4 linked regions of the Homo sapiens genome follow. The protein of the gene in region 2 interacts with the protein of the main gene of each other region in a pairwise test. Each region holds a gene or a part of one and is shown on either strand. Other genes may lie near its edges. The genes, in order: SLC35B4, CLDN5, VAMP5 and TMEM128.

Region 1 (7,030 bases), on a different chromosome or scaffold from region 2:
ATTTTAAGTAACAAAAACCCGAGGCAGCTTAAATGACTTCTCCAAGCGACCTGGTGACTCTAGGACATTTATCTCCACTGCTGTTGCTCAAATCCATCAGAGAATAGCTCTGGACAGTGGAATAAACATACCACACCATGGAATGAGCCCAGGAGACCTGCAGAGCCACGTCTCAGTTTAAGAACACAATGTGTGCACCACACACACACACATACATACACACACACACACACAGTCTTTGTCTATAGGCAAACAGAGAAGTGGCCGGTGAGTTCAGCTGCTTACAGAGGAGCATGTACTGGTATGTAAGGTTCCAGCTAAGTAAAGAAAAGGGATGTGAAAGTGCAGCCACTTCCGTGCCCTTTGATCACACACAGACTACACAAGAGCACACAGAAGCTACGCATATTACAGCAACAGCGTTCCTCCTATTCAAGATTGTCCAGTGAAAGGAAAACTGGACCTCTGAAATGATTAGCAAAGAGAGGCATGTTTCCACACACAATAAAGCACATCCAACCATCCTCAATACCCATCGAGAATGCTAAGATACCTCATAGGACAATAACAACTTTCAATTGTCGTTGAGGTTTGACCTGATTTACACATCACACACTATATATCTCCATCTATGCATTCCCTTGATGGGTCGTGACTCTTAACAGAGTCATCGGGCAGAGGGGAATCTCCTGGTGGTGAAGCCTTATCCTCCCACTTGAGACCCACCCTTCTGCCCTGTGAGTGCCCGGCTGGGCCAACAGGGACAGCCATGGCTCTTGCGGTGCTGAGCAGGGCCATCCTGCCGTCACCACTGTGGCCTAGGCAATGGGCTTCAGGGGTGTCCAGTCCATAACAACCTTTCTTTTTTTTTTTTTTTTTTGAGATAGAGTCTCACTCTGTCACCCAGGCGGGAGTGCAGTAGCACGACCTCAGCTCACTGCAACCTTCATCTCCCGGGTTCAAGTGATTCTCCTGCCTCAGCCTCCCAAGTAGCTGGGATTACAGGCATGCGCCATCACACCCAGCTAATTTTCGTATTTTTAGTAGAGATGGGGTTTCACCATGTTGGCCAGATTGGTCTTGAACTCCTGACCTCAAGTGATACACCCACCTCAGCCTCCCAAAGGGCTGGGATTACAGGTGTGAGCCACCGTGCCCGGCACAACCTTTCTTTGTTATGAACACTGTGTCTGCTGTGAGATATGCTGCAGGGCCGCCCTAATCACAGAAAGCAATGGATAGAAGCATCTGACTTTTGCATAGAAAAAAAAAAAAGCAAAATGTGGGAAAGAGGAGTCCCACTAGTCTTGCTGCACTGTCACTGGGAATCAGCTCAGGGGAACATCTCTTTCCTTCCCAAAACGCTGGAGGAAGTCCAGCCCTGCTGTTACTGGTGTCTCGGTTTACTTGGCCACTCCTGGTGATAGTGGTGCCTGCAGCGTCTGACTGACTGTGAGGTGCTGCTGAAGAAGGAAAAGGTGATGGGAGACAAAAGGGATAAGGTCACAGGATGACAATGACTGCTGTAGCAGAGATGCATTACAACAGCAAGAGAAGGGACAATCTTTTCCAAGACCATGGATAGTAAGCCTTTTGTTCAGGAGACTCAGAATTCAGAAAACAAGAATAATACTGAATATGTCGGTAAACAAAACAGAAATAAATGAATGGGCTGTTCAATAGTCCAGAACTGTTCTTTTTTCTATTTTAGGGCTGAGGGGTTTCTATTTAGTCTACATGTGTCAGTCTGAGCAACGTGAGAAGTCCCCTCCTGAAGATTTCCTTTTGCACGGCTGGCTCAGCACTGCGGGTAGCTCGGCATTAACAAAAGCGAAACGGTGGTCAGACCTTCACAGGGTCCCACCCTCACGACGACACTGGTCTACGTACTCCAGACAGGCCTCAGTTCTTCTTGCTGTCCTTCTGAGGCTCACTTTTTGTGGTCCCTAGGTTGTTCCACACCTCTGTGTACATTAAGGTCCCAATGAAGACAAACAAGGTGCCCAGCCAGTGCCACAGGGTGAAGGGGTTCTGGAAGTACAAGATGGAAAAGATGAGGCTCACAAATTTGCGTAGGGTCACGACGAGCGTGACGGTGAGGGAGGCGCATTCTGTGGTGAGGATAAACACACCCCGGATGCACACGTACCTGGAGGAGTGGAGTCAAGGTAGTTTTCTGTAGACTGTACTTGGGGGATCAGTGAGAGAACCTTCTGGCATGGTCCCTGGTTTAACTTCTCATATTCTAAGAAAACATGAAGGTCCGCTACGGCAGCTCTGAGGCTCCTCCTGGGGAGAACCTGCAGAACAACTCCTGTCCTGCCATTCCATTTATGGGTACCAATTTGAAACCGCCAAAAAACCCCCAATTATTCTTATGTTGGAGTCTTCCTATGGTTACAATGACAGGCACCTCCAAGATAATGACAGAGGGTGACGCTCTCGGTAAGGGTGATCCCATTCACCTTTATTTATCTTGCCTCCAGCCCTTCTATCCCCTCCTCCAGAAAGGGACTCTGGCAAATCTAGGAGCTGACTTCAGAGGAATGAGGTCAATCTCGATTCGTTTCACTATTTCAAAGACATAATTATTTTTATAATGAAAGTAAGGTCATTCGAAATAACCATTTTAAAAAACGAAAACTTGATTACTTTGAAATTTCTTTTTTTTTTTGAGACAGGGTCTTGTTCTGTTACTCAAGCTAGAGTGCAGTGGAGTGATCAAGCTCACTGCAGCCTCGATCTCCTGGGCTTGAGCGATCCTCCCACCTCAGCCTCCTAAGTAGCTGGTAATTTGAAATTTCTTTCAGGACTTTGCAGCAGCTTGTGATCACTGGAAATATCTTAGGACACCAAAAAATCACAGGTACAAATCACAGATGATTTATGCTATACAGTAGTTCTTTGTTTGTTTTTTGAGATGGAGTCTCACTCTGTTGTCCAGGCTGGAGTGCAATGGCATGATCTCAGCTCACTGCAACCTCCACCTCTTGGGTTCAAGCGATTCTCCTGCCTCAGCCTATGGAGTAGCTGGGATTATAGGCACCCATCATCATGCCTGGCTTACTTTTGTATTTTTGTAGAGAGGGGGTTTCACCATGTTGGCCAGGCTGGTCTCAAACTCCTGACCTCAAGTGATCTGCCCGCCTCGGCCTCCTAAAGTGCTGGGATTACAGGCGTGAGCCACCACACCCGCCACTATCAATCAATGGACTCCTACACTTCCACTCAGAGCACTTCCTCCTGCTGCCCTGTGCCTTACTGACCTACTACACCACTAGCATCTCTTCTGCCCTCTACAAGGAGTTCCCTGAATTGGTCTCTGTCTCCAGCTTACCGCAGAATAAATCCAGCGAAAATCATATTCAAGTCAACACACTGTTAGAAGAAAAGAATGACCATTCCTGTGCCAAAAGAACCTGATGATGACATAAGGGTGACGGCACAGTCCAAAGGATACTGAGTGATGATGTTCATGAGGAGGTAGAACCACATGATGGGCAGGGTCACTCCGATGACGGGAATTTCATATAACTCTGTAGAGGTTACAAGAGGATATAGCCATATTGCTTTTTCACAGCTGAATTTTTCATCTTTTGAACAGGGTAATACAGACTGAACATAATAGGAACAGCAACATTGTCTTCCTTGCAAATAGAATTGGATCACGCATCACTTTACTTGCCTTGACTCCAGGCTATAGCAGCCACTAAAGTCATTAAATTGGTTTCTTAAAACAAATAATAGTTTTAATTTTTAAGGAAGTGTTTTACCATTTGCCTGAATAGTACCTCACTTTACAAAGAAAGACTGTGAAGCACAGAAAAGTTGAAAATGATAAAATGATATAGACAGCCTTAACAACTCAACACAAGAGGAAAGGCGGCTAGCAACTACTGTTTGGAAGTATGTTCAATCACACTAGTAATTACAGAATTCCAAAGTAAATAAGACTGTACCATTTTATAGCTACAAAATTAGCAATTCAAAACTTATTAATTTATTTTTGAGACAGAGTCTCACTCTGTCATCCAGGCTGGAGTGCAGTGGCATGATCTCAGCTTACTGCAACCTCTGCCTCCCAGGTTCAAGTGGTTCTTGTGCCTCAGCCTCCCAAGTAGCTGGGACTACAGGCACACACCACCACACCTGGCTCATTTTTGTATTTTTAGTAGAGACGGGGTTTCGCCATGTTGGCCAGGCTGGTCTTGAACTCCTGACTTCAAGTGATTCGCCTGCCTTGGCCTCCCAAAATGCTGGGACTACAGGCTTGAGCCACTGCGCCTAGCCAATTCAAAATGTATAAATAATATCTTAATCTGGCAAGTTGGTAATGGAACTGGCAGCCACAGGTTGGTGGCAGTATAACTTGGCGTCATTCTTTAAAAAAATCAATTTCATAATCCTTATTAAGGGTCTATAAAAGTATTCCTACCCATCCTTCAGAATTAATCCTAGTTTAATTCAAAGGAAGAAAAAGGTTCTGCACTCATTAAAGTACTATACATAATAAAGAATAACTCTGAATCAAAATCAAATGCCCAATGATGGTGCAATGGCTACATAAACAAAGGCACTTTCATTAGAGGAGGCATTGTACATTTGATAAAAACAAAAATCATAGAGATTTTATAGCCACATAAAAAAAACTCAGAAAAAAAGTAAAAAACAAATATAAAATTATATCCACACAAGGATTACAGCTATGTAAGAATCTCTGTAAACAGACATGGTCTAGAAGAAAATCAATAAAAATAAAATTGGCAGATGTCCAGGTTGATGGAACTGTGAATAACTTTAAATATATTCTTACATTAGTTTTAGGCCAGGAGTAGTGGCTCACGCCTGTAATCCTAGCACTTTGGGAGGCCAAGGCAGGAGGATCCCTTGGGCCCAGGAGCTCGAGACCAATCTACCATTCTGGGCAACAGGGAGGTCCTGTCTCTATTAAAAGACACATACACACACACACTCTCACTCTTATGTTAGCTTTATATAATGACACTTGCACAGTAAATTTGTGGGAGGAAATAAGATGAAAGAGAATACAGACATAGAAATCCTCAATGGCTCAGTTTTTTTGTATTACTAAATTTTTTTCAGGTTTTGAATTATACAGCATAATTTAAGAAATTCTGATACAATGATGCTGAGATCTGGTAAGAAATATTAATTTTCTTTCACGAATAAAATGTCTCATATATACATACACACGCATACACATAAAGACTAATTTTTGAAACTTAGTTCTGGATCAGTGGGCAATGCCAATAATCTGGTATTCTATTATCTTTGATATCCTTAGCAAGTATTGAAATGAAAAGGAAGTTAACAAACGTGATTACTTTTTAATAACTTCAGAGATACACTGAATCTCTGAAGGAAAGAGACAATGAATATCACTTAAAATATTTTGACAGATATTTAGCTCTCTTGGAAAATTCACGGATCTCAGAAACTTAATCTCAAGGAAAGCAAGAGAAGGAAAATGTATCTTTAACTTGGAAATGATTCTGGAGAAGTTGAAGGCAGATTCTGTAAAACATTTTATCATAAATACCTAGCCCTGTGATTTTTAGAAGCAGCATTCTAACAACTAAATCAATCACATGGAATTTGACAACATTTTTATTTCAATAGCCCTTTGCTACGTGGGACTTCTCAGAGATCTTAAAAACTGTTGTGTTAATATGAAGAAATGATTATTTGAGTAATTCAGAGCCTTACAAACTCTTACACACTACCTTCACATTTTTTGGGGGATGGGGCAAATGGGAGAGGCAACACTATAAATGCAGAGAATAGTCATAACTTCACAACTCATGCTCAGATAGCAAACAAATGTTTACTGAGCACCTACTGTCATTCTACAAAATGCACTTAAGCATTTGAGGTGTGTGCAACATAAAGCCTTGATTTTAAAAACGTTTATTTGTTCCTTGTGTGTTCAATGTGTCTATATTATACTCTGTTAGTAGATAATCAGATCATACAAGTGATCCCTTTCAAGTTAACTGACAATCTATAGCTAATTTATTAACTGGCCAGTTTAAAAAGTAACAGCTAACTTACACTAGACGCTTGAAACTAATTTTGCTTATTCATCTGCTGCCTGTCTCATCTGTAACTAGGAGAAAAACCTTGTCATCATTGAGCTCCCCTCTTGCTCTGCTCCATGGCAGCTTGGGCTGGATCTGTGAGCAGCTCTGCCTTTCATGGCAGAGAAGGATAAACAGCAGTTGAGAGAGCTGGACGGCTGCCCAACTTCGCAGGGCTCCAGTCTCTGCAGTGTGCTGTAAGTATTCATTTGCATTCTCAAAACATCAAACATTTCACATTCAAATGCAAACACACAAATTCCAAAGCAAAATGGAAAACTCGAAGATATTCTTTTACTTCATTTGTAAATAATTGAGAAACCCCTGTAAAAGCTTTTGCTGCTGCAATGACTGGAAAGTGGAATGGAGACATTTTCGAAAGGAACACATGATTTGAATAGGATTATGAAAAAGGCCGAGGTCAAGTCAAGAGTAAAACTGAGACTCTGCCTCAGAAACTGTCAGGTAATTCTACTGTCTAACCCCAAACTCACCAGACTTATTGAATAGAACTGCATGGTCATAAATATCAGAAGCCAAGAAGACGAAACCCGGAAGTGGAAGGGCGTGCTATGGAAAGAAACAGGTCAGATAAATGTAAGTGCAAAAACATTATAGAATAATTAGAGTAGCTTTACAATGATTAAAAGTCGTACAGGTTGTTTGACAGCAATACAAAGAAAAGCAAGTTAGACTTAAGTTAAATGTATACAGTGCTTCTTGACCACTTCACCTTGTATGGCAGGATATTAACCCCCAAATTATGGTTCTTGCCCTTATAGGGTCTGAGGGCCATCACAGACAAAGCAAACAATGGAGCCAGCATCCTTTCCTCAACAACAGGGAATGGAGAAATTTAAACATATAGTCTTTCTGCACAAAAGGATTTGCTAAATATGCAGACACAATTTAATTTGCTTTGATTGATCGTG
Region 2 (6,049 bases):
CTGTTCCTGCCCCACCCACCATTGGAAAGGGCCTGGTCGGGGATTCTACAGACCTCTGTGGCCACTTGATGGGGCTTGGGACTAGGCAAGCCCTGAGAGGGCAGTGGAAAACCTCACCCTGTGCTGTGTGGGGCTTGGCCCTTTCTGGGAGAAGCCAGCGGCCTGGCTGCTCACCCCCAGCACTTCCCACACCGCAGGACCCCCACTCACCAGCCTGTGTTGAGGGCGCTTCACCCCGCATCTTCTGCTGGGGTCTGCCGCTGCCCCCGCCCCTGTCCCATCCCGGGCCCCAGGGCCCCATGACGCAGCAGCTCTTCTGACCGCAGATCCCGCCTTTCTGGGCTGTAGTAAGTGGTGGCTGTGTCTCCCACCTGGTGGGAAGGTGGCAGGGAGGATGGGGAAAAGAGCCCCAGCCTCCAGCCCTGGGAGGAGGTCTCCACAGGAGTCCTTGGGAGGGCGGGGCTGGTGGGTGATGAATGGGGCTGCTGGACACGGAAGATGGCTGGACAGAGAACAGGACACAGGTGGGAGAGAGTTCAAACCATTTACTAAGCAGATTCTTAGCCTTCCCACTCCCGCCCTCTCTCAAGCTCCGGTGCCCACAAGCCTTGCCTGGGGAGATGCTGGAGTGAGACCGGGAGGTCCAGGCCAAGTCACTGGTCCCTGGGCTCGGGCCCTGCCGATGGAGTAAAGACCAGCTGTACACATCTTCCGGTGGGGGCCCTGGGCTCTGCATCCGCCCCTCCGAAGTCAGCAGGAGCCTCTGGGAAGTAAGGCAGCAGCCAAGACCCCCAGCGTCTTGGAGGGGAAGCGAAATCCTCAGTCTGACACCCGCTCTGCCTATGGAAACAGCGCCGCGCACAGAAAAGGAAACTTCATTCCGTCTGTTAAGGGCAGGGCCGGGCTAGTGGCAGGAGAAGGTCAGCTGCGGGCGCAGGCAGGAGCGGATCCAGGAGCCGCGTCGGGGCGCAGAGCCGGACGTTCCGAGGAGCCTGCGCGCCGCGCTACCCGGCGGAAGCCGCGGTCCATGCGGGGCTCCCCAGGCTTATCCAACGCCTCGCAGGCGTGGCTGGCAGGAGGGGCCCGGCCGTGCCCAGCGCCCTCAGACGTAGTTCTTCTTGTCGTAGTCGCCGGTGGCCGTGGGCCGCCGCGGCGCTGAGTACTTCACGGGGAAGCTGAGGTCGGGACGGCCGGTGCAGACCCAGGCGCCGCAGCACAAGAGGCAGCCGCCTACCATGAGCAGCGCGGTGGCCGCCCAGCCGATGTACAGCGCTGCGCCCAGCTCGTACTTCTGCGACACGGGCACAGACGGGTCGTAAAACTCGCGGACGACAATGTTGGCGAACCAGCAGAGTGGCACGAGCGCCAGCAGCCCGCAAAACAGGTAGAGCACGCCTCCCGTGAGGGCCACACGCGCCTTGGCCGGGCCCGGGGCCACGCAGGTGGTGCACTGCGCGCCCGCCAGGGTCACGAAGAGCGCAACGAACGCCAGCAGCACGGCGCTCACGGTGAGCGCCCGCGCCGCCTGCACCTCGGTGCTCAGAGCCAGCACCGAGTCGTACACTTTGCACTGCATGTGCCCGGTGCTCTGCACCACGCACGACATCCACAGCCCCTTCCAGGTGGTCTGCGCCGTCACGATGTTGTGGTCCAGGAAGGCGGTCACCTGCCACATGGGCAGCCCGCACGCCAGGATCAGACCCCCCCAGCCCACCAGGCACAGCACCAGGCCCAGGATCTCCAACGCTGCGGACCCCATGGCTAGAGGCGAGACGCGCACCCGAAGGCCCGCAGAACCCCCAAGGCCGTGCTGCGCGGCGCCCTGGGCGGGCCCTGGTGCCTTTGCGCCCGCGCTCCCGGCTCTTGGCCCCAGTCCGTTTGCCCCGCGGGTCTGTCGCACCTCCTGGGTCTGCCAGCTCCTGCCGGGGGGTACCCTCTTTGAAGGTTCGGGGGCGGATTCTGTCCCCCGGGCCCGGCCCCCCGGCCCGAAGCAGCCAATCCGTGCGCGGGTCATCGTGCCGCAGCCAATCACAGAGCCTCTGGCAGCTGAAGTTAGGGAAACAACGGCTCTTGAGGGGTAGCTGAGGGCGCGGGACCGCTCCCCGCCCGGCAGCCGCCCCCAGCCCCACCCGCCGTTGTCCTAGTCGCGGCCGAGCGCATTCTGGGCTGGCCTAGGGCGCGCTTCTTGGGCCGCCTCCCTGCGCGTCCCGGCCCCGTCACTTCAGAAGGCGCTCGACCCCCAGTCTGCACCACCCAGTCCACTCCCACATCCCCGACTGAGCCGGGTGGTCTCTTCCACTCGAGCCAGCTCCACTTCCCTGACCAAGGTTTGCAGAAGCCCCCCACCCCGTCACCGCCGTAGAGGCCCTCGTAGGGGGGCTCTCCAGAAAGCCCGCCCCGGGGTCCAAGCCCCACCCAGGCCCTTTCTCGCACTCTCACTCTCCAGCCCCGCTCTGAGTCCCAGCACTGTCTCTCTCATCCCATGGCAAACAGAGAGGCCAGGCAGGCGTGTGGAGGTCAGGCCCAGGGCCCCAGCCTCACCCCCCATGCCACTCACTGCCTCTCTGGAGCCTGAGTCTCTGGCAAAAAGCGGTGGCACAGGGGCTTTCCCCCTGCCTGGCGACCCCCACTCTCCCAAGCCGCAGGGGCTTCCCAGACCTCTCAATCTTCACAGGGGCTGCTCCTCTTCCTGCGGTACTGCCCGCACCCCATCCTTGGGGGCCCAGTTCAGGTGACACCACTTCAGGAAGTTCCCAGTGACCCAGCACACTGGGTGTAGCACCCAGGGGCAGTGGTGGCCCCAGGCCTAGCAGCCTGCTCTGGCCTTCAGACAGGAGAGACAAAGGGACACGGAGGGGCTGTGCCCTGCCCTCCCACCAGTGGCGATGGTGTCCCTGGCACCCCAGCCCCCAGGCCACCCTCCGGAAGCCAACTTGGAGTTTCCTGGCCAGGAGGAAGAGCCCCCATCCTTGCTGGAGGAGGGAGGCGCGGGATTTCCGGGCATTCTTCTGCACAATGGCCCAGCCATTTCTCGAAAGGTCCACTGGTGTGGACACTCCGGGCCCCCTGAGGCTCAGGTGGGGGCACGCGGCTCCAAAACCCACAGCCCCATGGGGGCACCAGCCCCTTTCTAGTAGTTCTTTCCCCAGTCTCTCTCGGCCCCTTTGTTTCCAGTAAAGTTTGAACTCCAGGCCCTGGACTGAGGCCACTGGGTGCCCAGTTCTTTTATCTGGTCTGTGCTCAGTTCCATTGGACAGGGCCCTCCATAGAAAAAGTATGGCACTGAGGCTGGTCACAGATGTGGGAGGTTTGATGACTTTCTCCCTCCTGGGGCCCGGTTCCCTTCTCCCCCTTCAGATGGCTCTGAGATGGTAAATGAGATAAGGCCAGCGTCTGGCTCACCTAGTGTGGGGAGGTTCTGAAGGCAAGTGTGCCCAGCCCTGAGGCTGGAAGGAAATCATACCCTCTTTGCTCAGCCCCACGTGGCCTCTCCCCACCAGGTATGGCTCTGAGGACCACTGCCTTCTCCCAGCTATCACTTTAGTCACTGCCTTCCTCCTGCTGCAGACCCATGGGCCATGCCCCTTCCTCTACAGACCCTCCTGGACATCTCCTCCTCTGTGTACTCCAGGGGTACAGCTGACCCACCCACCCTCTCACTCTTACTACCCCCTAACCCAAGCCCAGGGAACTTCCCCAGATCCCCCTACTCCCAGCCCTTCCATGCCACCATCTTCCTGGGATGACTGCTGCGGCCTCCTCAGGTCATCAGGGACCTGCCCTTGCCCAGCTAGGCCACCCACCCCACCAGGCCCCTCTCCTGGGCCTCACCCTACCTAAGACCCTCCATGGCTCACATTGCCCATGGACGAAGAGCCGACTCCCAGAGCAGCTGGATTGATGTGTACCTGCATGCGCTAGGACTGGCCAGTCCAGCCACCAGTCTTGGTGCGGCCCTGAGCACACACTCTGCCCCAGGAGACTTACCTGCCTATGGGCCTCACATGGGCCGTCTCTTACCTTGGCCTCTTCTGCCCGCAGCGTGTATCTGTCAGGTTGGGTCCTGCTCATCTTCTAAGATGTGTTGCCGAGGTCATTTCCAGGAACACCTTGCTGCACCGTCCCCCAGCATTGCTTTTAGAAGCTTGAGCTGGACCTGTCCTTTTGCTTGCCGACTTTCCCACCTAGTATCCAGGAATAACCTCCACAGGGTGGCTGTCTTCATGCGTCTGTCCTGCACAGGAGGCTGCCTGTTGCCCTCTAGCCAGCTTGGAGCTGCAGCCAGCCCAAGGCTCTCCCTTCTCACCTGGCTGCCTGTTTTTCTTCTCTCCTAGCTGTCACCCTAGGGTGGCCCCAGCAAGCTCATGTTTCTTTGGCGGCAGCCTCACAGCATCTCAGGGACGTGGCAGAGGAGTCTCAGGCTTCACCTTTCACAATCTGGTTTCTACCCTGACCCCACTATGTTGGTCGAGGCCCCAGGCTGCAGTGGAACAATGCCAATGCAGAGAGGCCCAGAGAGGGCCGCAGGGGCTGACGCCACCCCAGACAAACCCACCTCAGATGGAGGCTGGCCTCTGAGTAGCCCAGGCCAGACTCCGGAGGGGCATGAGGGTGCACCCACCTTTCCTGCCACTCATGGAGGGTCTGCTCACCTACTTCGTGGCAAGCACTGTCTCTAGGCAGAGCACACAGCACAAGAAGCTCCTGCCCAGAAGGAGCTGACAGGAACCTATCAACCAAGAACTGGGCAGGAAAGACAGTGGTGAAGGCCTCTCTGAAGAGGTGACATTTCACAGGGATCCGGGGAAGAAGTTCCAGGCAGAGCAGAAGCAATAGCCAGTGCAAGATCCCAGAGGTGGGAAGGGGCTCGGCGTCCAAGGGGCAGAAGCGGCCTTGTGTCCACAGTGCCACAGTGGTCCAGGGCCTGCAGGTGGAGATCGGAGGTGTCCTGGTTAGGCAGGGACACAAACCCCTGATCTCTGGTAAAGGGCCCTTGGGGCAGAGCACTGGCCAAGGCCACCTGCTCACCCCCAGCCATTGTTCTGCTTTCCCAGGGGAAGAATGGCAGGATCTCATTAATTGTGTGTGAGAAGAGCCTGAGTCTGCAGAAAAGCCAAGTTTATCTTGAGCAGCTGCTGGCTGACCCTGCCCCAGGGTAATCCCGTGACCTTCCAAGGATAAGCTAAATTTAGGCTCAAGATTCCTGGGGATTTGGGTTTGGGAAACTCCTAGTTAACAGATTTGATTTCAGGGGAAGTGAAGAACAGCGTTTCTTCTATCTTTCAGTTTTGAAACAGTTAAGGATGTGTCCTTCTATTTCCGCAAATGTTTGCAGAGCCTCCAAGCACAGTGTGGCCTGGTGCTCTTTCTTGACACAAGCCAGTACTCCTGCAGGCCGAGAGCAGCAGCTGGGGTCCTCCTGCATCCCTGACCACTGCACCAGGTGCCCGAGGCACCCTGTGTGGGGCCCCTGGGCGGCTGTGACGATGTGAGCAGCATCCAGAGTGGACAGTGCCAGACTCGGCGGTTTTGCGGGCATTGTTGTTACTCTTTGTGGTTAAACACAGGCATGGAGTCAGATTCGCTCCCGCAAGCAAGAAACTTTCTGGACTAGTGAGGTGGCCTCTCTGCCTTAGTTCCTCACTGGTAACGAAGCCCCCCAATGGTGGAGGCTGCGAGGCTGCAGGGGAGGCCGATGCCAGTCCCGGTTCTCTTCTGCCTTTCCTGAGTGCCATCCACCCAGGCTCCCAGGGCCTTCACAGCTCATCCAACCTCAGCCGCACCCCTCAGGGTAGTCATCGCTGGCTGTTAGTCAGAATTGGAGGTCACTGTGGCTTTAACTTCCCCAGCGGGTGAGGGAGTGGGGGGCAGGGAGCTCTGGTGTGATCCACGAAGGGTCAAGGGTTCTATAGAATGGCAAGCCAGGCCAAGCGCAGTGGCTCACGCCTGTAATTCCATTCAGGAGGCCGAGGTGGGCGGATCACTTGAGGTCAGGAGTTTGAGACCAGCCTGTCCAACACGGTGAAACCCCGTCTCTACTAAAAATACT
Region 3 (6,506 bases), on a different chromosome or scaffold from region 2:
TGGCCAACATGGTGAAACCTTGTCTCTACTAAAAATACAAAAATTAGCCAGGTGTGATGGTGGGCACCTGTAATCCCAGCTACTTGGGAGGCTGAGGCAGGAGAATTGCTTGAACCCAGGAGGTGGAGTTTGCAGTGAGCTGAGATAGTGCCATTGCACTCCAGCCTGAGCAACAGAGCAAAAACTCTGTCTCAAAAAAAAAAAAAAAAAATTGGTGAAGTGCTTTCTTCTTTGTCATCGCATCTACAGTCTCATTGGTCCTCTAAGCATCCCCAAGATGACAGAAAAATAATAGATTTCATTCTCAGAGAAACAGGCTCAGATGGGGAGGACTGGTTCAAGGGTCTGCTTTGGGGGCCATTGTGTTCTTGCATCCACACTCCCTGTCTGTGTCGGGCTGGATCAAGTAGGGAAGGGAGAGGAAGGAGCCATCTCCCAGGGGTGGAGTCCTTTGGGTGATGGGCTTTTTAAGCAGCCCTAGGGGTAGAGACAGATGGGATTAACCAACCTGGGGACCTTCACACACAGATACCAGCTTTTAATCAAACAGCAGTTTTTACTGAGCTCCAGGTGGGGCTGGCCCAGCATGGCCAGTACAGCAGGCTGCCCTCAAGGGCCAGTCTGTGGCATGACAGGAAATGCAGGGGTGCACATGTTGGGGCTGCCCTTTGGCACTCACTGGGGTGGGTCAAGGGAGAGCAAACACCAAGGTCCTCTGGAGACCAGAATCGGCCAGTGCAGCCATTTGGCTTCTCCTTCAGGACCAGCTGGGTCAGTTCCCAGGCCCTGAGGCAATGCCTGCATCCTGGGTCCGTGGGGCACTACTGCTGTCACTGCTCTGAGGGAGAAAGACGACCAGCAGCACAATCAGGATGATGAGCAGGACACCAACCACCACCAGCCCCACGCAGATCCGGTAACGGATGTTCTCCCAGCACTTCTTCTGGGCCAGGTTCTGTGTAGTCTTGTTGAAGGTTGAGCTCTGCGGATACCCCCAGACACAAAGTGGGAGTTAGCTGGCACCCTCTTGGCCTGGGAGCCAGCTCCTCCCAACCCCATCTCAGTAAGGCTTAGTCTCCTCCTGCATCCTCCCCATCTTGTCTACTTTCTTTCTTTTTTTTTTTTTTTTGAGAAGGAGTCTCTCCCTGTCACCCAGGCTGGAGTACAGTGGCACAATCTCAGCTCACTGCAACCTCTGCCTCCCGGGTTCAAGCAATTCTCCTGTCTCAGCCTCCCTAGTAGCTGGGACTACAGGTGCACACCACTGCGCCCGGCTAATTTTTGTATTTTTAGTTGAGATGGGGTTTCACCATACTGGCTAGGATAGTCTTGAACTCCTGACCTTGTGATCTGCCCACCTCGGCCTCCCAAAGTGTTGGGATTACAGGCGTGAGACACCGCGCCCGGCCTTGTCTGCTCTCTTTCTATACCACCTGCCGTGGAACCCTCCCAGCCTGACTCATCTCAAACACCGGTGTGGCCCTTGACTTTCAGCCCTAGTGTCTCACCCTCAGTTAACAATGCCAGTACTCAGGCTGGACACAGTGGCTCATGCCTGTAATCCCAGCACATTGGAAAGCCAAGGTGGGAGGATCTCTTGGATCCAGGAGTTCAAGACCAGCCTGGGCAACATGGTGAGACCTCATCTCTACAAAAAATCAAAAATTAGACAGGCATGGTGGTGCAGGCTTGTAGTCCTAGCTCTTCAGGAGGCTGAGGCAGGAGGATCACTTAAGCCTGGGAGGTAGAGGCTGCAGCAAATATGATTGTGCCACTGTACTAGCCTGGGCGACAGAGTGAGACTCTGTCTCAAAGTAAAAAAGAAACAAAAAACGATACCAGTTTTCTACCTTTAAGAAGGTCCACAGCTTCAAACCAAGGCCTTCTTATCTTGTGGGGTCTATCTGTTGCATGTCTAGGCTATGGGTGCCTGAGGAAACCCAGAGGCCCCACACTGGCCCTCAAGAAGGCCTCAACCCCACCAAGGAACTGGAGATCCTGAATACAGCCCAAGAGAGACTTTCCCAATCCTCTCCCCTCCCCTCCATGCTCCCCCAGGCCTCACACCATATCCAGGAGTTGGTCTGAACGCTGCTGCAGTTCGGCCAGCTTCACACCACGCTCCAGGACCTTGCCGAAGTTGTTACGCATAATTTCCGTCACCTCGTTCGCCTGCTGCTGGCACCGCTCCAACTCTATTCCTGCCTGGACACCAAGCCCGAGGTCAGGGCTGCATGAGGCCCCCACCTGGCCCTCATCTGCCCCTGAGATCTAGAAGCCTCCTTCTCCCCCTGTAGGTGGGTACAGCATGAGAGTAACAGCATCCTTCGTGTAAGGGTATGATGTGTGCGGAGTGAAGGTCTGGCCTTCGGGGTGAGTGCGGCACACCTTAAGTCTCACAGGCTCCTCCCCTTGCACGTCAAGGCAGGGCCTAGGACCTAGGTAAGTCCCGGCTTCCAGCACCTCAGCTTCCTCTAAGCTGTCCCAAGGTGGGATCTTCCCAGGACCCCACCCTCCCACAAAGCTGATTCTTTTCTCACCTGCTCCAGAATGGCGTCTACCCAATCAATGCACAGCTGCCCTAAGGTTTCCCACTGGCCTAAGAAGGCAGCAAAGAATGGGTAACCAAGCTACCTGGCTGGAACACACAGGGAGGAGACCTACCCTACAGGCTAGAAAGGTAATTTTGAAGCAGCACACATCATAGTCTCTGCCTAACCCCTCTATCCCCAAACTGAGAAGCTCAGATCTTCCTCTTTGGGCCTCTGACTGGTCAGGCCAGTTCTGCCTCCTGGCCTGATCCTGCTCCCTATATCACTGCTCCAACTTCCCTCTCCGTCTGGGAACCTCAGTGGTACCGGTTTTTGGCCTCCAGCCTTCCACTCAGCTGGGGTCCTCACTGGGGTCCAACTTACAGAGATGAGACTAACTCTTGGATTTCCCAGCCTGGGGGGCAGCTTTGCCTAACAGAAAACACCAGCTCATTTCAGAGGACTGGGAAGGGAGGTCTTGGATCCAAGCTGGGGAAGGTTGAAATGACAGGGGAGAGAGAAAGTCTGGGTCATGTGCAAGAAAGGCACTGGGCTTTGGGTGCACGTAACAGAGAGAGACACCAGGCAGGAGGCCCTGGTATAAGCCAGAAGCCTAGGAGCAGGGACATTTCAGGGAGATGAATACCAGTGGATTAGCAAACCACAGAAACTCCTTCCTCTTAGCCTACTTCCCCACAGCCCATCCCTGTTCCCTTCCCCTCCTTACAAGAAGGGCAAGCTTCTTTTCCTGCCAGCCCACGTCACCCATTGTCTACAACAGACATTTTGGCACTTGACTGAATTCCACTTAAAACCAGAAAACTTAAGTGTTAGAAGAGATCTGGTGGTCACAGAGGGCTACCTCCCACTCAGCCAAGAATCCTCCTTCAGGATCCTTGCAGCTGCTTGGTATACAGCCTCCAAGAATTCCCACTGTATGAGTCCTATCTCCCCAGCTGGACCACAAACTCCCAGAGGGAGGGCAGGGAGCAGTGCCCTGCCTTTGTCCACCACCATCCCACCGGGAGGCCAGCACAGTGCTGACCATTGCAAGCAAGGAATCAGTGAGTGGGCCAATTACGATACAGCCTAACCAAAAGCAATTCTTATTCTCAAGAGATGTTCTCCCAGCATGTTTTTCTAGCCCTGCATGAGTTTCGAGGGGCAGGCATTTGAAACCCAAATAGGTCAATATTTACCCATGAGCTAGAAAAGCAACCTGCTTCAAGAGAGGTCAGGCAAACCACTGTAGGGGAGGCTGCGCTCACAGGCTGGAGGAAGCAGTAAGCAGGAAACACAGAGGAACAACGAAGAGAGCAGGGAAACTGCACTCTCACCTTTTCCTGAGTCAACCGTCATCACTATTATTACTACTATAGCATTCAACAAGGCTCCATCATTCAATCCTTTGAACTTCCCCACATTCAAATACTCCAAGGCAGGCTGGGCGCAGTGGCTCACACCTGTAATCCCAGCACTTTGGGAGCCCCAGGCAGGCAGATCACTTGAGGCCAGGAGTTCGAGACCAGCCTGGCCAACATGGTGAAACCCTGTCTCTACTAAAAATACAAAAATTAGCCAGGCATGGTGGTGCATGCCTGTAATCCCAGCTACTTGGGAGGCTGAGATGGGAGAATCGCTTGAACCTGGGTGGCGGAGGTTGCAGTGAGCCGAGATCACACCACTGCACTCCAGCCTGGGCAACAGAGCAAGACTCCATCTCAGCAAACAAAACAAAACAAAAAACAAAATTAAATAGTCCAAAGCAAAAACTTGAGAATGGATAAATACTCGAAAATAAGAGTCACTGCTAGAGACTGGGAAAATGCTGGATATTATCTTTTTATTTTCTATTCTAAATGCTACAGCTGTTGTTACCTTATTTTTCAACAAGGGGTGATATTTGGGTCACATTCTCCAAAGAGCTGGCTGTGCTTCCAGCTGTAATCTGGACCAGTCTCCCCCAATGCGAAGCCAGGCCTGCCTGGAGCCAAGATGGACCCAGGCCTAAAAGAACACATTCGCTCCAGGGAACACAGAGGCCTTAGACTCAAGTCTCGGGCCCTCCTTGGCCCCCACTCAACCAGAGGAAAAAGGACACTGACTATATACACAGGTCTCTGCTGGCACTGTGAGAAATAAAGCTCCAGGGACCCTGGAAGGAGGTAAGCAAGAGGACAAGGGCCATACTGCCTTACGCCACACTGTCACTCAGCATAATGTCTGCAGACAGCAGAGATGTGATAAACAGTTCCTGAATAAATGGTGCCTATATTTTTAAAGATGGGGTCTTGCTATGTTGCCCAGGATGGTCTTGAACTCCTGGGCTCAAGCAGTCCTCCCACCTCAGCTTCCCAAAGTGCTGGGATTATAGGCATGAGCCATCATGCCTGGCCTAATTGTGCCTATTCTTAAAGAGACCACTTTGCCCTGGGGAAAAGACACATGTAATACAATTAGAGAAGAGTAAAGAGTTACACTGTGCGATACAGATAGTAAGTATCAGAGCTGCCACAGAGAGGGTGCCATGGTGGGGGCGGGTGACCCCTTGAAGGATGACATGGAGCAGGGACATTCTTGCACTGAGAGATAGGGATACACCCTGACAGTGAGGACCAGGCAGAGGATGGGAGGGATGGGGCAGGACAGAAGGCAGAAAAGGTCAGGTAGAGAAGACTGGCTCCAAGCGACTGATAAAACTTAAGAGCTAGTGTGGTTTTTGAGCCACGGGTGACAGTGAAGAAGTGCTTCAGGATAATTTCTCTATTGGTGGTAGACAGGCACAGATAGAAGTAAGAAAATGGCAGAGAGGCCAGCCAGAGGGGTGGAGAAGTACCATCAGCAAGACTGCCAGGAGATGGCCACCAGGCGGGAGAGGGGTGACAAGCAGAGCGTGGAGAAAGGAAGAAGGGTGAGACAGGCATTTCTGAGACCTGAGGCCAGAAGCCTGCAGGGCTTGGAATTTTGAGCCAGGGCGAGAGGGGAGCAGTTGTGTAATTGCCAGAGAGTGGCAGTTACACAGGAAATGTTCTTGACAGACTGTTGCCCCCTGTACAGAATATCCCCTCTATGACACTCAAACCTCTCAGGTTTTTCTGGGCTCAATCTCTTTGATTCCTCCTATGAAAACGCAGTTCTCAAAACCACACCATCTGGGCCAGGCACGGTGGCTCATGCCTGTAATCCCTGGACTTTGGGAGGCCAAGGTGGGCAGATCATGCCTCTACCAAGAAATACATAAATTAGCCAGGCAAAGTGGTGCCTGCCCATAGTCCCAGCTACTCGGGAGGCTGAGGCAGGAGAATTGCTTGAACCTAGGAGGCAGAGGCTGCAGTGAGCCAAGATTGCGCACTGCACTCCAGCCTGGGCAAAGGAGTGAGACCCTGTCTCAAGAAAAAACAAAGAAACAAAAACAAAAAAACCTCCCTATCCTAACTCTCCTTGTCTCCCCATCTCCTGTCTAGTATCCAAGAAACTGTTCTAACTGTCGTCAGATGAATGGGCGCAAGTACCGGTATAACATTGCCTCCCTAAGTCGGCACTCAGCTCAGAGACTAGGAGCAGGGCTCTGCTTTGCACCCGTCTGTTGAAATCCTGCTTCTGCCACTCACCAGCTGAGTGACTGAGACTGAGGATATGACCTTTCTGACCTCCACTTCCTCTTCTGTAAAGTGCTGATAATAATGTTAGCTAAGGATTATGTGACTTATTGTAAATCAAAAGCTTAGCACAACGCCTGACACATACTAAATGCTCAATAAATAAGAGCTATTATATTGATGTGGCCCACATTTCCCTAGCTCCTTTTTTTTTTTTTAGCAGTCAGATCTCAAGAATTGTACAATATGGCCAGGTGTGGTGGCTCACGCCTGTAATCCCAGCACTTTGGGAGGCCGAGGCAGGTGGATCACAAGGTCAGGAGTCTGAGACCAGTCTGGCCAATATGGTGAAGCCCTGTCTCTACTAAAAATACAA
Region 4 (7,030 bases), on a different chromosome or scaffold from region 2:
TTAATAGAAACTGAAGTCTCTTAGTTTCTGACTTCAACAATAATTTAAATGGCTACAGCCCATTTTTATGACATCACACACTAAACTATCATGGTAAAAAAGACCAAAATATTGTCTCTTAAAAACAGAATGAAAACAGTTATCACTTATAAGCTGCTATTATATCTTTCATTGAGAAAAACACTATTCCTGTCATCAAAGTAAAATTAAAACACTAAGTATAAAGATTTTTAATGACTGAAATTTCTAAGAACAGAATAGGGAAAACTATATTCAAATAAGTTCAGATGGTTATTGGTTTTAATATATAATAGTTTGATAAGTATGAGTATTAAATAACTATAATCACAAATCACACTGTCTAAAAAATTAACATTTCTGGACATGATCTTACCCTCATGGGAAAAAGTAAAACAACGTATCTGCATGCCCCCACATACAGGTTAACAATAACCACATCACACTGTCAAACAACCTTGAACTTCAACTACAGAAAATAAGTCATAGAAAGAATATGTATAAAGGTATATGGTTCTTCCAAAATAAAAATTCAATTAGGCCGGGGGTGGTGGCGCACGCCTGTAATCCAGCACTTTGGGAGGCCAACACAAGCAGATGGCTTGAGGCCAGGAGTTTGAGACCTGCCTGAGCAGCACAGCGAAACCCCATCTCTACAAAAAATACAAAAAATAGCCAGATGTGGTGACACATGCCTGTGGTCCCAACTACTCGGGAGGCTGAGTGAGGCAGGAGGATCACTTAAGCCTGGGAAGTCGAGGCTGCAGTGAGCTGTGATCATGCCACTGCACTCCGGCCTGGGTGACACAGTGAGACCCTATCTCCAAAAAGAAAAAAAAATCCAATTGATATAAAGAAAGAAAAAACTAGAGAGCTGCACACAACATAGGAAAAGTAGTTTTCTTTCTGGTTGAATCATAGGATATATTTCCTTTGTGTTTTCATGTAATTTACAGATTTTTTTTCCTCAGTGAGCAAGTATTACTTTTATAAACCCAAAAAACCCTGTATTTTTCATTGAGTATTTAATTAACTTATGAAGAAGGTTATTCATTGTGGCATTGTTTGGGTATAAATATAACGAAGTCCAACAACAGAAGACAGGTTAAATAAATCATGTTATGTCCATGCTGTGAAAACTATGCAACTGTTTAAAAAAATGAGACACATCTATATGTACCATTATGGAAGAATCCCAAACTATAAGGATCCACTGAAAAACAAAAGGAGAAAAGGACAAACAACCACTTTGGAAAGCAGTTTGGCATGATTTACTGAAGTCAAAGGTACGTACATCCAACAATTTTACCCCTTGGGGTACATATATATACATATATACATACATCTCTACACCCAACAGAAATGTGTTCACTGTGCTACAAGAGCCATGTACAAGAATGCTCTTTATAGCATCCTTCATAGTAACCCCAAACTGAAAAAAATCTAAACACAATCAACAAGGGAAAAGAAAACTGGGATTCAATTAAACAATGGAATGCTAAAGAGCAATGAAGATGAGTCACTGTTCCCGGCGACAATATGAAAGAACTGCACACAATGCTGCACACAGCCAGCTCAATGTGAAGGAATACACCCTGTACAAATCCATTTCTATAAAGTTCAAAAGCGTAGCTGAAACAAAAATAGAATATCTAATGGAAGCAAAGCAAGTAGTTACCATGAAGGTCAGGGCAGTATTTACCTGTGGCAGGAGGGAAGGTGTAGTAACTGGGAGGGAGAATGAAGGGGGTTCCCAGTGTGCTGGCTCAGTTTACACCAATGCTCACTTCATGAGAATTCATTCACTAATTCATTCATCTCAGTTTTTTTCACTTTTCTATATGTACTGTATGTCATAATAAAATAGATTTAAAAAGCAAAATGCAGAATATGTACAGAATGTCACCATCTGTGCTTTAAATAACTAGATCCATAAATAGAAGGAGAAAGAGATACTAATCAAAAGGGAACCAGAGAGCATGAATGACCAGGAGACTATTTTTCTGTTTTAACTTTTTTTCTTTCGAAGTTTGGACCAAGCATATCACTATCTGATCAAAAAAAAAATTTGTTGTTCATTCCTGTTAGTCATTTCAAAGTTAACTTACCAAATTCCTGCTGCAATAAAGGAGGCAGTGGTAATGGGTATCAAGGCTGGATACTTGACATCATATTCTCCAATTCCACAATACCATTCCAGGTAGACTATGCAGTAAAATGCAATTGATAAACTGACAAGCAACAAGGCACTGCCACAGAGAAACCAGCTGTGGAGATAAAAACAGTAAGAGGTCTGACAGCACTTAATGAATCGTCACATATCTTAAAAGTTTTTACTAATAGCTTAAAAATCTGCTTCTAAGAATATCAAGTGTTGCAGAGGGAGCCATACTTAAACAATCCATGCTTTCAGAAAGTCTCAATCTATGGGAGATGGGGGTGAGAAAAAGAGATACACAACTCAGGAAAGAATGAAAAGTAAGACTTGAAATACATGCATTTATATATACACTCTCATCAGCCAACCAACCAAGGGAAAATTCTGGTCATGACAATGCATTTTCTTTAAAAATACAAGGAAGAGGCCGGGCGCAGTGGCTCATGCCTATAATCCCAACACTTTGGAAGGCCGAGGCAGGTGGATCACCTGAGGTCAGGAGTTCGAGACCAGCCTGACCAACACGGAGAAATCCTGTCTCTACTAAAAATACAAAATTAGCCAGGCGTGGTGGCGCAAGCCTGTAATCCAATCTTCTTGGGAGGATGAGGCAGGAGAATCGCCTGAACCCAGGAGGCAGAGATTGCAATGAGCTGAGATGGCGCCATTGCACTCCAGCCTGGAGTGCCTGGGCAACAAGAGTGAAACTCTGTCTCAAAAAATAAAATAAATAAAAACAAAAATACAAGGAAGATAGTGGCTTTCTGGTTGTTTCTGAAGTTTTGAGTGTGACAGGATTAAAGAAGTTTATCAGTGGGAAACTTCATTCCTCCAAGTTAAGTGGACTTTCTTGGAATACTGAAAGACAATTAGGAAGATCAATAATTCAAATTTTCTCTCATAAAAGATTTCTAAATGAAATCCTCCCATTTTCAAAATATCTTCTACTCACCACCTCACCCTCAATGCCAATGCCTTTTTACTCCCTTCCAATTCCACCTGTGACCTGATTCAGCAAGAGTGAGGCAACCTGGACAACCCCTTCCCTCCACCCCAGCTGGACTTGGGGACTGAAATGCCTTTCCCATTCTCCCAACTCAATCCAATATCCCATCATCATCTGCTTCTCTATGGGAAAAGCCTGACAATCCATGTGGAAGAGAGAGGGAGAACAGATGGCTACAACAGATAAGTTACAAAGGCACAAAGTGAACTTCCAATAATGGCAAGGTTCCGGATTCCATGAAGGCTTTTTACGATGATGCAATTCTGAGATTCGGAGTCATGAGAGGCTGTAGAGGGAAGGGGTTAAGAGCACAGCCTCTGAAATCTGTCTGTATGGGTTTGAATCTTAACTTGAGCAAGACTAGTTTTGTGACTCTAGGCAAATTACCTAACCTCCGTGTGTTTCAGAAATATTGACAGTACTTAACTCAGAATAGCTGTGAGAATTAAATCAAGTGGTCAGCAAAGTGCTCCTCACAGCTGACTCTCAATCATAATCATTATTATTCCACTCAAGTTATTTTTATTTTCATTCATTTATTTCTGAGCCGGAGTCTTGCTCTGTTGCCCAGGCTGGAGTGCAGTGCTGCAATCTCAGCTCACTGCAACCTCCGCCTCCCAGGTTCACCAATTCTCCTGCCTCAGCCTCCCAAGTAGCTGGAATTACAGGCACTGGCCACCACGCCCAGCTAATTTTTGTATTTTTAGTAGAGATGGGGTTTCACCATGTCCATATTGGCCAGGCTGGTCTCGAATTCCTGACCTCAAGTGATCCACCTGTCTCAGCCTTCCAAAGTGCTGGGATTATAGGGGTCAGCCACCATGCCCAGCCATCACTCAAGTTATATCTATGAGGAAAAAATGTCCATGTTCATCTTTAGGAGTCTTCAAAGACCTCTCTTCTGCTAGAGCATGCAATCTCACTGGGGGGAGTATCGCCCCCAAAGTGAAGAAAAAAATATGGCTCTAATTGTATGTATAAAGCATAGATATGCATGCAGTATATAAATGATATAGTTTATCTAATTCCACATTCCACAGGAATGATTAGGAAAAAAATGTCTAAAAAGGCCTTTTATCATTACCCCTAAGGAGTCTTTTTAGACATTTTTTTCCTTTGCCAACATGTGGATATGAGAAAAAAAAAATTTTTTTTTTTTGAGACGGAGTCTCGCTGTTGTTGCCCAGGCTGGAGTGCAATGGCACGATCTCGGCTCACTGCAACCTCCACTTCCCAGGTTCAAGCTATCCTCCTGCCTCAGCCTCCTGAGCAGCTGATATTACAGGTGCCCAACACCACACCCAGCTAATTTTTGTATTTTTAGTAGAGATGGGGTCTCACCATGTTGGCCAGGATGGTCTTGAACTCCTGACCTCAGGTGATCCATCCACCTTGGCCTCCCAAAGTGCTCGGATTACAGGCATGAGCCACCATGCCCGGCCTAAGAAAATTTTTTAAACTGCCTGAACAAAATATAATACTATCAGTCAGTGGTCCTCGGCCCTGGCTTTATATCACAGTCACCTTGCACCTTTCTAAGAGAAACTACCTAGTCCCCAGTTTCCAAAATTCTGGGCCTGAGCATCTAGGATTTTAATTTTACTTTCTGTCTTTAACTCCACTGTTGATTTTGATGCACACAAGCCGAGTATTTTAAACTGTGATTTCTAAAGCATCACAGTGTTGTTTTGTTATTATTTATTTACTTATTTAATTTTTTTAAGACGGAGTCTCGCTCTGTCGCCCAGGCTGGAGTGCAGTGGCGCGATCTCGGCTCACTGCAATCTCCACCTGCTGGGTTCACGCCATTCTTCTGCCTCAGCCTCCCAAGTAGCTGGGACTACAGGCGCCCGCCACCATGCCCAGCTAATTGTTTTTTGTATTTTTAGTAGAGACGGGGTTTCACCGCGTTAGCCAGGATGGTCTCGATCTCCTGACCTCGTGATCCGCCCGCCTCGGCCTCCCAAAGCGCTGGGATTACAGGCGTGAGCCACCGCGCCTGGCCTGTTTTGTTTTTAATATGGACCTGCTCTCCCATCTTTGAACAATATAAAGAACCTTAAGGCCTCAAGCTTCTAAACTTAGGCTAGAGCCAGAGGAAAAAGAAATCACCTCAGGCGTCAGAAGAACGAGCCATTTTAGCCATTTTCCAAAAGCAGAACTCAGCCGGCACTGTCTTTTGTGCAGCCCTCTCATTTCATGGCTGTTCAATACCCCCCAACTCCCCTTAATGAGTCCTTCCCAAGAAAACAATGCGACTCAAAATCCTCAGCCTTTGAGAATGCATTTCTGCCTTTTTCTCTCTAAGATGACACCTTGTTGAGGACAGATCTATGACTTCTACTTTCTTTCCAACCCCCACAGCCCTGGTCCCAGTGTCTGCGTCCCGGCTTTGCCACACAGCAGTTATGTGGTCCTGGGCACTCCACTTCACTGCAGTTGCCCCCAAATATCTTATGTGTGATCATTTCTTACTCTGCCATTTCTCTAAACTACTAAAAATACCCAATATAAGGACACAAATACAGAAGTTCTCTCACATCTCCTAAAACCTCAAAAAGGTCTCAGTCCTGAGGCTGACCTGGACTAGATATCCCTCCTAGATGCTCCCATGATACCCTGCGCCTACACTTACAAAGCACATACCATGCGGCCTGGTAACTTGTCTGCTGCAGCCTAGAATGAGCTGTTGGAGAGCTAGAAATGCACCTTCCACGTGTTTGGCACTGACAGCCAAACACATCTCAGCCTCCATAAAGTATCTGATGAAGGAAAGAGCAGCTGCTATTGGTGGTGGTTAAAGTACCCATCCCCTCCAGCCAGGTGCAGTGGCTCACACCTGTAATCGCAGTACTTTAGGAAGTCAAGGTGGGAGGATCACTGGAGCCCACAAGTTTGAGACCAGCCTGGGCAACATGAAGAGACCTCGTCTCTACAAAAAATAAACCAAATTAGCCAGGCATGGTGGTGTGCGCCTATAGTCCTAGCTACTTGGGAGGCTGAGGTGGGAGGATCACTTGAGCCTGGGAAGTCAAGGCAGCAAGCCATGATCGCACCACTACACTCCAGCCTGGGTGACAGAGTGCAGCGAGACCCTGTCTCAAAATAAAAATAAAAATAAAGTATCCATCCCTCTTTTCCCAGCCCAAGTTCTAAGAGAGATGACTGAGTCAAGCTGATGAAGATTAAATGTCTGTTATACTGATGCAGCCGTGGGAAGAATATGGCTTTGGTGAGTGATGACAAAGCACTTCCTAATACTGGGTCTCTGACACCCAGAAACAGCCTTACCCACTGGGTTCCAGGTCAAAATGAAAACCTAGAGACCTTTTCCTGTGGGGACTGCCCCTGTGGAATGACACCATGGGAAGGCAGACCAGACTCTGCGCTTCCTATGGGCAGCCGACTTGCAGCAGAAGAAGGTGCTGAGCTACCTTTGTCCAGTTCTTCATCACACACTCAATCAGTCACGCCACCTCCCACAAAGGAGTGAGTGACATGGAGGGGCAGAAGATGGGAGTGTTTAGGGAAAGTTTCTCCCCTAGAAAGTAGAGGACAGTTTAAATAAACTCCCCTCTGCCTACTTTCCCCTGTGGGCTTTTTCCTTGTGGCTCGACAGTCTCCTCCGCCAGAAGTCACTGCTCCTCCTGAAGGCCCTTGAGGAGAAATCATGTGTCCTGCCATGATACGAGGGGACCACAGTCCTGTCTGCATCTTCCTACCCCCACTGGTACTTCCAAATTATTACTCTTGACCCTAAGCACACCAGCCCTCCCAATGCCATGATGCTCACCAACATACCTCTCCCTTCCATTTCTTATCCAAGGGTCTCCACATCACTCTCCAAT

The links.
Region 1: the proteins of CLDN5 (region 2) and SLC35B4 interact in binary tests that used the Homo sapiens proteins (3 or more experiments, as listed by UniProt).
Region 3: the proteins of CLDN5 (region 2) and VAMP5 interact in binary tests that used the Homo sapiens proteins (3 or more experiments, as listed by UniProt).
Region 4: the proteins of CLDN5 (region 2) and TMEM128 interact in binary tests that used the Homo sapiens proteins (3 or more experiments, as listed by UniProt).

The regions. Positions count from the first base shown.
Region 1 is NC_000007.14:134,292,931-134,299,960, forward strand, and holds part of SLC35B4 (nucleotide sugar transporter SLC35B4), read right to left. Parts: intron 6,669-7,030; coding exon 6,593-6,668; intron 3,537-6,592; coding exon 3,461-3,536; coding exon of another isoform or gene 3,382-3,460; exon of another isoform or gene 2,150-3,381; coding exon 1,903-2,149; 3' UTR 1-1,902. UniProt on the Homo sapiens protein: Antiporter that transports nucleotide sugars across the endoplasmic reticulum (ER) membrane in exchange for another nucleotide sugar.
Region 2 is NC_000022.11:19,522,497-19,528,545, forward strand, and holds CLDN5 (claudin-5), read right to left. Parts: upstream 1,760-6,049; coding exon 1,103-1,759; 3' UTR 531-1,102; downstream 1-530. UniProt on the Homo sapiens protein: Plays a major role in tight junction-specific obliteration of the intercellular space.
Region 3 is NC_000002.12:85,587,424-85,593,929, reverse strand, and holds the end of VAMP5 (vesicle-associated membrane protein 5), read right to left. Parts: intron 2,206-6,506; coding exon 2,068-2,205; intron 983-2,067; coding exon 773-982; 3' UTR 524-772; downstream 1-523. UniProt on the Homo sapiens protein: May participate in trafficking events that are associated with myogenesis, such as myoblast fusion and/or GLUT4 trafficking.
Region 4 is NC_000004.12:4,238,195-4,245,224, forward strand, and holds part of TMEM128 (transmembrane protein 128), read right to left. Parts: intron 2,286-7,030; coding exon 2,127-2,285; intron 1-2,126.